Linked DNA regions of Homo sapiens: region 2 is linked to region 1. A link means that fine-mapping ties the variant in region 1 to the expression of a gene that starts in the linked region. Tissue or cell type: skeletal muscle. Region 1 holds a variant in brackets; the other region holds the start of a gene. All regions are shown on one strand. Distances are from middle to middle.

Evidence for each region. PIP is the estimated chance that this variant, and not a neighbour inherited with it, causes the effect.
Region 2: PAXIP1-AS2 starts here. The variant in region 1 is fine-mapped to the expression of PAXIP1-AS2 in skeletal muscle (GTEx, PIP 0.97).

Annotation. Positions count from the first base shown.
Region 1 is chr7:154,901,033-154,906,406 of GRCh38, reverse strand. No RefSeq gene overlaps it. Among named protein-coding and RNA genes, the nearest start is that of PAXIP1-AS2, 25 kb to the left of the region's middle. The variant A/T (reference allele first, on the strand shown) is at 2,045.
Region 2 is chr7:154,925,951-154,931,324 of GRCh38, reverse strand. PAXIP1-AS2 (PAXIP1 antisense RNA 2) reads right to left here and starts at 2,808. Exons shown (of 8, transcript NR_024476.1): 1 at 2,558-2,808; 2 at 2,301-2,369. RefSeq lists enhancers at 2,178-2,397, 2,548-2,647, 2,668-2,727.

The sequences.
Region 1 (5,374 bases):
AAGGCCCTGTCCCAAGTCCACTCACGGGGCCACCTACCCCATAGCCGCAAGCTGCCTCAGAGACACAGGCCCTCCCGCCCCAGCTGCTCCTTCCTCCTCCCACCCAGGAGGCCCTGCTGTTGTGCTGGAATGGTGGTATTCCTCAAAACATCTGCTGAGCCCTAACCCATGGCACCGCCAAATGGAACCTTCCTTGAAGACAGGGTCTGACCAGAGGTGATCAAGTTGAAATGCGGTCAGCAGGGTGGGCGCTAACTCCATATGACTGCTGTCCTTATGAAAAGGGGGAATTGGGACACAGAGACAGACTCGCACAGAGGGAGAGTGCCACGGAGAGTGTGGAGAGACCCAGCCACAATCCAGGGAGCCCCCCGCCCCATCCCCTGGGGGAGAGCACAGTGTCGGAGGACAGGCCCTTCCCTAGCACTCTCAGAGGGAGCCTGGCCCTGCCCACACCTTGATCTCGGAGCTCAGTCTCCAGCAGCATAGGATAAAACCCCGTTATTGAAGTCTCGGGTTTGGGATGCTTTGTTACAGCAGGGGCATCCCTGCACCCTCCCTCCTGATCCCTGCTCCCACCTCCTTCGCCAAGTCTGTCTGCTCTGCTCAGTGCTGGGTGCTCGACCAGGCTTCCCCTCCTCTCTGGATGGCCAAGCCTAACCAAGGCCTGACCACCCACCCAGATGGGGAGGGAAGAGGAGGGGAGGCAACGGGGAGAGACAAGGAAGGATACAAGGCCGGAGGGAGGGAGAGATGGGGAAAAGACAAAAGAGGAGAGAGAAAGAGAGGGAGAAGGGGAGAAGAAAGATGGGGACAGAGACAGAGAGAATGGACAGAGAGAGAGGAGAGAAAGAGAGAGACGACTGGAGAGAGAGAGAGAGAAAGACTGGGGTGGTCAGGGTTGTGGGGCGGAGTGTCCAGGCCTGGGAGCTCAGCCCTAAACCTTGCTGTAATTGTTACTTTATAACAATGTAACTTTGAAGCAGTGGACTAGCTCCCTGTGCCTGGTGACTGAATAATTGAAGAAATGTTTGCAGGGCTGGCGTGGAGTGCTAGCAGCTGCGGCCTCCTCTGATATGTATGAAGCCTGATAAATTATGCCTGAGCCAGCAGCGTGGTGGTGTGAGACTCCTGACCCCAGAGTCTGGGGGCCTTGGATGCTCTCTTCATGGCGTTTAACTTCCACCGTGCTCCCCAGACAGCCTCTGCCGGTTACTGAATCAGTAGACCTCCTTGAGGCTGCGGTCTCTGAAAGTGCTCTAGAAGCAGGGGTGTGGAGCTCAGCTTCAGGGTGGGATTCCAGGAGCATGGAAATGCGGGGTGGTCCCGCCCAACATGGAGCTAGGACCCCCCACATCCTCTTGCAATTCATTCTGTCCACGTCTCTCCAGTTGCTCAGAACTGCCACGTGAGCCAGGCGCTGTTGATGGGGGACGGAGGGGTGAGGTATGGGGGAAATAAACCGTCTCGCTTACCCCGGGAACTTGTCATTTGGGTGGGAAAAAGTCAGTTTCGATTTGTGGAAGTGCCTGCCCAATGCCACAGAAGAAACCTGTCCAGGATGGAGGGTGTGGGTTTGTCAACTCCTGGTGCTGCATTCTTTGGCCCTCCTAGAGGCCCTGCCCCATAGACTAACCGGTGTTAGCCAGAGTTAGTGGTGCCTGATGGAGAGTGTCACACCTACTCACTGGAAATGGGCGGGAAGGGGTTTGGCCCTTTGCTTCCCAACTCCATTTTCAGTGATGGCAGCTTGGGTGTTTGACGTTGGCCATAGTGGAAACACTTACACCACGGAGATCGACAGACTCTATGGGTTGGGATTTTCTTTTCTTTTGTTTTTCTCTCCTTTTGTTTTCTATTAGGAAGGCTGATGCCAGCATACCACTGAGAGGGTCATCTAAGTCCAGCTCAAGGTCCTCAAAGCCCACAGTTGCTGCAGTCATAGAAGAGGATCTCAAGCAGTGGATTCATTCTGCCTCCTTCCGCCAAGCGAGTAAAAATCTCATTCACAGGACAATCATGCTGACTTTCAGACAATATTAAG[A/T]TTTCCGTAAAAATGGTTATTTGGAAAAGCACACATCTGCTAATATATCTGAGACGTAAAACTCCAGCAGTCTTGGTGCAGTTGAAAACAGAATTTGGAGACATTCATGGGTCCTGCTTCTCTACTGGTCAATGAATTCATCATATTTATATACTTATGAGCTGGGCTTGGTGGCTCACGCCTGTAATCCCAGCACTTTGGGAGGCCGAGGCGGGAGGATCACTTGAGGTCAGGAGTTCGAGACCAGCCTGGCCAACATGGTGAAAGCCCGTCTCTATAAAAATATAAAAATTAGCCAGGTGTGGTGGCGCACATCTGTAGTTCCAGCTACTCGGGAGGCTGAGGCAGGAGGATCACTTGAACCCAGGAGGTGGAGGTCACAGTGAGCCAAGATTGCACCACTGCACTCCAGCCTGGGCAACAGAGCGAGACTCCGTCTCAAAAAAAAAAAAAAATTATGTTGATTATACCACTCTTCTCCACAGGGAATACTGGCAGTGAAATCCGATTGAACGAACTACAGTGGATAATCTTGCTCACTGACCTTGCCGGCCTCTGGGTGAGAGTGGGTCTCACCACCACTGACGACCTACGTTTCACCAGCTTTGCCCCCTGCCATCTCAGGCTAGGACGCTGGCCACCAAGGGCTCCTTGCCAAGTGTGCCTGGACTCAGGCTCCCACACAGCTGGAAATTGACTCCTTTGTGTGACTGGCTCAGGTCAAACAGCTGCTCCCGTGGTGTCTGCTGCTCACCCAGACACATGGGACCATCCTCCACCTCGGAGCCCTCCACAGCCCCCAGGTTCCAGCCGTGGTGACTGGCAGGAGGCTGCTGCAGACCCTGGGCTGCCCAGGTGGCCCCAGATCTCAGAGCTTCTCTGGACCGACTGCATGGCGCTCCCTCTGGGCCACAGAGAGTGCCCCCAGCCTCCCAGGCCAAGCCAGCCCTCCCTTTGTCTCCCAGAAAACGAGTTCTTCAGCTCCTGCTGGAGAGCCTCTCGCAGACCAGCGACCCCTGCTCACCTCTCCAGGCACCTGGGCAGAAGGCCTTTCTTTGTTCTCTTTCAGCTCAAACAAATCAACCTGCCAAGGCCAAGCCTATTACTCAAACACATGGAGGTCACACAGTTCATCTGCTGTGCCCAAACGTGGGTAGACTCGGGTTTGGGACCTGGTAAGGGCCTCCCTTTGGAGAGGGAGCTGGTGGTGGCAGGACTCCCTCCCGAGCACTGACTGGCTTTGTTATCTGGGGCCAGTGACGGCGTCTCTCTGTTCCTTTTGTTTCCTGTCCGCCAAACGTAAATAATGGTAACCCAACCTCATGGGGTAGTTGTAGATTGAAATGTGTTAATTGTGCAGAGATTAAATGTGTTTATCCACGCAGAATGCTAGCACAGTGCTTGATATAGAGCAGGCTTTTCATAAATGTTAATTATTATTATTAATGTGGCTATTGTGATCTTTGGAGTGAATGGATGCATAGTCATCTGCCTTGTGTCCAATGCAAATGCTTAGTTGTCCTGAATAACTGGCAACTACACAGCGTTTTGCAGTGAGAGGCTCTGGGCCCTAGGATCAAGCCGCTGGCCTGTGTAATTCAGCCCTCACAGTGCAGTGTGCTAGCTGGCATCAAATTTGACTGCAAAACACAGAAAAGGCCAAGATAAAGAAGATAGAGCGTTCTGATGAGGGACACCAGGGCTGGTATAGTGTGCCCACCTGCCAGGAGCCCAGGCAGCATCTGCTTGCTCTCTGTCACCCTTGGCTCGGAGCTTCCACCTTGTGGACCAAGGCTCTGTTGGGTCTTCAGGAACCCAGAGGGAGGAGGGAGAAGATGAGACCAAGGATGCTTCCCTGCTGTCTTTTGAGGAAGTGTCTTGGCAGCTGCCATGTGGCATGTCACATACATCCCAGTGGCCAGAAGTTAGGCTCAGCGAAGAGGCCGGAACAGTTTTTATTCTGGATGACCATAGGCCCAGTTAAAAACTGGGGGTTCCACTTCTAAGAAAGAGGGGTGGTAGTGCTAGGGTGGACTCCAGTTAGTGCCTGAAGGAATTTTTCTACCATTTCTCTTCCTGCCATTTGTGAACCCTTCCCAATGTAGCAGGGATTTGATGCTTGGGACTAGGAACCAGTGACTTATGTCAGACGGTTCAGAGTCTGCGCCCACTCTCAAGGGTCACTTATGCCCCAGCCTATCCCATATTTACAGAAAGGGGTGTCCTGCAGAGGCACTGATGCGGGTGCTGGCAGAGTTTTTGGGGGTGGTTGTGAGTTGTATTAGTTATCGAATGCTGTGTGACAAATCACTCCAAAACTTAATGGCTTAAAACAACAGTCATTTACGATTGCTCACAGTTCCTTTAGATTTGGAATCTGAGAGTGCCTTGGCCAAGAATTCTGTCTGAGAGTCTCTCTTGAGGTTGCAATCAGATGTCAGCTGTGGCCATAGTCATGGGTGGGACTGACAGAGGATGGAGGATTTACTGCCATGGTGGCGCCCCTACATGGCTGGAGAATTGCACTGGCTGCTGGTGGGAGGCCTCAGTTCCTCTCAACATGGACCTCTCCGTGGAGCTGCTTGAACATCCTTGCAACATGGTGGCCAACTTCCCACAGAAGGAGCCATCTGGCCAGGAGAGAAAGACAGAAGCTGCAGTACCGTTAATGACCAAGCCTTGGCATTCACGCACTGTCACCTCTGCAGTATTCTGTAGTCACAGGGGTCAAGCCTGATTCCATGTGGGAGTGGACTCCACACGACAGGAATACTAAAAAAAGCGGGTAGAGTTGGCATCATGGTGGGTGGCTAGCAAAGTGCGTATTTAATCAGCTTAGCACGACTGGCTGTGGCTCCATTCATCACTGTGGAAGTTCAGACAAGCAGAAATTAACACTGTGAATCTTCACAAGTTGACTTTAGGTCTCCTGAAGGGTCTCTTGATCTACTGGGATAACTAATTTGGGAAATGAAAAATTTTCCCTTTTCCTTCCAATGGAAAAGCCTTTGGCTGGGAATTAGGGTTTTAGAGCTGGTTGAAGTAAAAACCAGCTACATCCTCTGGGCAAATCATTTAAATTTTGTGCACCTTCCTTATCAGTGAAATTGGAATAGTTATGTTACTTGCCTCATGTCCTTCCCAAGGATGTTCTGAGACTCCAGTAGTAACAAAGGTGAAAATGCAGTCAACGCATTCTCCTTGGGCTGAGGTTCATGGCTGCTACTTGGCTGAGTATGAAAGTCTTCTATCAACGTCTCAAATTTGTTAATAGCCCTTTTCTAGAGAAAGAGAAAGAAAACTCAGTGAGATTCTCACATCGTCTGGAGG
Region 2 (5,374 bases), 25 kb before region 1:
TAAAGTCCAAAACAGGAGAAACCACTGACAATACAAATCAGAGTTTTAGTTACTTTTGGGGAGGAGTGTGAGATTAGTGACTAGTAAGGGTGCATACATAGTTTCTGGGATGCAGGCAATGTTTTCTTCACACAGTTGGTGGTTACATGCGTGTAGTCACTCTGTGATAGTTCATACAATGCTATAATGTGTATACTTTTGTTTGCTGTACTTCAATAAAGAGTTAGTTAAAACAACAACAAAACACTTCTGTTTCTAGTATCTCAGGAATTGGAAAATTATAGTCCCTGGGCCAAATCTGGCCACCTGCTATTTTTGGAAATAAAATGCTAATGCGACCCAGCCACACTCATTCATTTACAGATTGGCTATGGCAGCTTGCATGCCACTACAATGCAGCGTGGATTTCATGGCCTGCAAAGCCTGCAATATCTACTACCCAGCCCTTTACAGGAAAAGTTTGTCGATCAGTGCTCTAGCCAGGCCTTGCTCCCATTCTTCAAACTGGCTCTTTCAAGCCTTCGTTCTCAAACTCAAATGCCAATCAGACTTTTTTTTCTCCCAGCAATTTTGAATTAGGACACAGAAACTGACTGGGTTAGGTGTTGTAGAGAGCAAAGCTGGGAGGTCACATGAAATGGAGGGCTGAGGCTGCCATGCGTCAATAAACACGATAGGAGGTGTGCAGAGTCTCACGTGCAGAGAGGAAGGTGAGTCAGGCCTGCAGGGCACAGGCAGGAGACCAAGAGCTCTGCAAAGGTGCTGAGGAAATCAGAGCGGGGCATCCTCCCTCTGCTTTCCAGGACTTGGGAGGCTCAGTCCTCTATTCCTGCAGCTAGTGTCATGAGCTTTCCCCAGCACAAACCCCAAACCCTTATCTTTGTAGTTCTTCGAGTGGCACGCCTTGTTACTGATGATCGCTAAGAGGAACATGGTGTTCTTCAGGCTGGGGAGAGGGCTTGATGCATGGTACATGAGGAAGGCAGTGCTCTCCAGCCAACAATAAACAAAGAAAAATTAAAACATGGATGCTTTGGTTGCCAAGAAGAAATGAAAAAGTAACATTAAGATTCAAAGACTTTTTTTTCATATCAAGACCCTCAATAAAAACCAATTTCAGCCAGGCATGGTGGTGCGCACCTGTAGTCCAGCTACTCAGGAGGCTGAGGCAGGAGGTTCGCTTGAGCCCAGGAGTTTGAGTCCAGCTTGGGCAACAGAGTAAGACCTCTTCTCTAAAATAATGAAAAATCTAACAATGACATTTTGAAAACTTTCAGAATTATTTAATCTGATTAGCCTAATCTGTATATTGAGATTAGTAAAGGTAGGTTTTGTTTTGTTTTCCAATCAGGAATATCCTCGCCTCTCCGTCCCCCCTGTATATACCTGGGAGCCTGAGAATGTATTTTAGTGCTACCATGGGAGGAAGGAGAAAGAATGACTAAATGGTTCATAAAACCAAACAAACCCTGAAGGTTCACGCCATTCTGCCCAGTGGGCCCTGTGGAACTTCGTGGGGCTTGTGGTTTAGGCTTCAGAGCTTTGGGGCTTCTGGGGTTTCTGTCTATATTATTCCTGCCTGGATGACATAGTGAGGTCTTCACTGCTGGAGAAGGGAGGGCTGGTGGGCCAGAGGGGAGACCCTGCAGAGGTGTGCAGTGTCCTTCTCTGCTGTTCATCTCAACCCGCTGTGTTAGGAAACCAGGAGGAAGCCCTACCTGGAATGAAACAGGTGCCTAGAATGAAGAGGGTAAGGACAAGGTTTAAGACTGTGACACCTGTTGCTTAAGAGACGCATTTAGGAGTGTGGCATGTAGATCCCAAATGTCCGTTTTGTAAAAGTTGTTGTTATTGTTTCACTTTTGTTGTTGTTGTTTGTTTGTTTTGAGATAGAGTCTCACTCTGTTGCCCAGGCTGGAGTGCAGTGGTGCAATCACAGCTCCCTGCAGCCTCAACCACCTGGCTCAAGCACTCCTCCCACCTCAGTCTCCCGAGTAGGCGGGGCCACATGTGTGCACTGCCATTCCTGGCTAAGTTTTCTTTTAATTCTTTGTAGAGACAGGGTTTCCCTATGTTGCCCAGGCTGGTCTTGAACTCCTGGCTTCAAGCAATCCTCACACTTCAGCCTCCTAAAGTGCTGGGATTACAGGCGTAAGCCACCACGCCCAGCCTGTTGTTATTGCTTTGAAGGAGTTCAGGAAATGCCACCCCCATGGCACTTGGGAGTGCTGATCCCTGTGAGCTGAGGGCACTTGGGAATCAGCGGATGCAGGCAGAGGTTTCCTCTGAGCTCCCCTTACCTGCCTGAAGACGGATCCTCCAAAAGGAACTCAGCTGTCATGAATCGCCTCCCCAGGAATCTCGTCAATCTGGGAGGATTAACACAGATCACAGGAGAGGACACTGGAGGTGACATCAGCCCAGATGACTATCACCCGTTCTCCCGAAGGCGGCTCTGAGATGTTTACGACCTCAGAGACATTTCATCCACAGAGCAGCACAACCTTTACTCACCAGACAGTCCCTCCCCAGGCTCTCCCATCACTTGTGTTCTCACCTCCCCTGGAAGCCCCGGGAACTTCGAAGTAGGCTTCTGTGGACTCCTGCCACTTCATCAGTAGCTGGGGCCCTGGTACCAGCACAAACTGCTTGCATCCAACTGACTTCACCAGACATACGGGCGTCTTTGGTAAGACCGCTCTCAGGTTTTGAATCTCCCAGGTTTGGGCTGAGATTCAGATTTTATTTAAGTAAATGAATTTCATGCTCAGTGGGACTGATATTGAAGCCGCCATTTAGGGCTTTAAGGCAGGAGTTTCGCGTCATTTCTCTAAAGATTCTGCTATTGGCAGGTTTGTGGTTTCACTTTTCTATTAGGTTAAGTTTTCGTTCGTCTTACTTGCTCTTTTGTAACCTTTTCTCTCATTGGACATTTTACTTGCTCAAGTTTGTAACCTTTTCTCTCATTGGACATTTTTTTACTTGCTCAAGTTTGTAACCTTTTCTCTCATTTGACATTTGGTTAAAGAGAAAGCAGTTTTCTTTGTAAAAGGAGAAAGTGAATGTTTGTGGCTTAAGCCAAATTTGTGGCTTTAAACCAGCCAGGCTTTGGATCTTGGTTAACATTGAGATTTAAAGTTTCTTCCTGAGTCACCCAAAATTTGTAAAAGGTTGGAATGAGGACGTGATAAGCTGAAGACAAAAAGGACTCTTTCTCCCAGCTGAAAGGCACCTTAGGCAATGGAGGTAACACAAGGGTGTGGAAGCTCACAACAAACCCCAGAGAAGAACTCACAGGGAGAGCTGCTTAACCCCCGGGGCACACAACACACAAGGGGTTCGTCACCCAGTGCCTTGAACTCCCAGAAATGTCTGGGTTTCTCTGAGGTAGGTAAGAGGGAAGAAGCTACTTGTAGGTGATACCTCCAGGAATAATCCCTACTAAGCAGCACACTGGACCCCAAACACTTTTCCCTTTTAGCCTTTGGGCATTTTAAAAGAGAATCCAAATTATGAGCAATTATCCATCTATAACCAAGCCCTCATTAAGCAATGCACCTTTGGAAACTCCAGCGGGGTTTATGTACAAGACTTATGGCGCCACCTCCTGTCGATAGTTGGAGAAATGGTCTTATTTGACCTAAGAAGATCCTAAATTACAATGATCAAAGAGAATTATCTTTGAAATAGCTAGATTAGTTTATTTATATGCACAATTTTAAAAAGCCAGCTATGGAATCAAATAAAATAATTAAGAGAGTTACTTCCAATGGCACCCAGAAGCATCCAAAAGAGGTTTTGACAGAATTCTTCCCTTAGAGGAAGAAAATAAAAAGCACTCTAAAACCATTACTGAATTTTAAAAAACACTGAAATGTCTTCTTCTCTCCCTGCTCCCCTGTCTCTCTAAGCCTCCTTGTCAGAACTACCCAGCCCTGATTGACCTTCTCCTCCTCCTCCTCCTGCCCCTCCTCCTGCTCCCACTGGTTTGGCTCCATTTCATCCAGCATCTGGTAGAGGGGAACCTGCTTTATCAATCATGATCAAACTTACAGGCATAGTTAAAAGAATTCCTTGATCTTCACCAGGTTCCTATTGGTTTTGCTAGGAAATTTGAATTAAATATCCAAGCTTATGACCCTAGTTATTCTGACTTCTAGCAACAGATTCACATGTTAGTAGCAAAAATTAAAGCTAAAGGCTGGCTAGACAAAGCTCACTGGAGAAATCTGTTAGGGATCTTCATAAATGTTCAGAAGAGGACCATAGACAGGCTTGAAGAACAGCAAAGGCTTTGCATCAGGCTATCTCCTCAGTTTTTCAGAGTAGTCAACTGGAACAAAATACAATATCAACAAAATTCAGATGAGTCAGTAATATACTTTGAGGGCTGTGGAAAAAATTTTAAAGAATATTTAGTTTTATCCGAAGAAAGCTGTGCTAATCATCGAAATGATACTCGACTCCAGTTTAACAAATGAGTTAGATGAATTGGAACTAACAATGAAAAGACAAAGTTGGGCCACTTCTGATACTCATGATTTGGTCAGTCTCATTGACCGGTTATCTGATACCTTAACTGAAGAAGAAAGAGAGAGGGAAGCCAAACAAAAGAGCGAGGCTAATACAATTATGAATTTACAATTAAAACAACTATTCACACAATTTTGGCCTTCACAATACCCCTAGAAACTCCCTAATGGACCTAACCTTCCACTTTGCAATTTTTGCAAAAAGCATGATTACTTTCAAAAGAGTTGCCAAAAATGAAAAAGGAAAGAATGTTAACCAGTGGAGGCAGAAAAGAAAACAGGGGTGCTCCAAGGAACTTAAAGGGGCCTTTCATTTCCTCCTTACTAACACTGGGAGAAATAAAAATTATTATAAATGGAGAACTAACACAAGCACTTATTGACACTGGAGCCACATTATCTGGAATTAATCCCATCTTGGTACAAGGTCCCATTCCTTGCAGTAAACAAAGAATTCAAATGGTGGGCATCACAATCCTCCTGTATTGGCATACCAATCTCAGCCTGTAACCTTTCAACAGTGTTCGTTACAAGGAACTCATGCCCTCCTCTTTGTTCCATCAGACCCCATCCATTCAACAGGAAGAAACTGCTTAGAATTATGTGATACCCACATTTCTTTCTCTCAAAGGAAGGAAATATATTTAAAATTAGATTATAAAACTCAACTTTGAGACACAACAGATATTTTAATAAAATTTTCAAAATCTAATCCAATTGCAATCCATATTGCCATGAAAGACAATGAATTATTGCTTAATGAAGAATTACAAAATGTACTAAAGACAGTACTTGATCCATTGTGGTCAGTGTCCTCCATTGATATAGAAACTATCATCTCA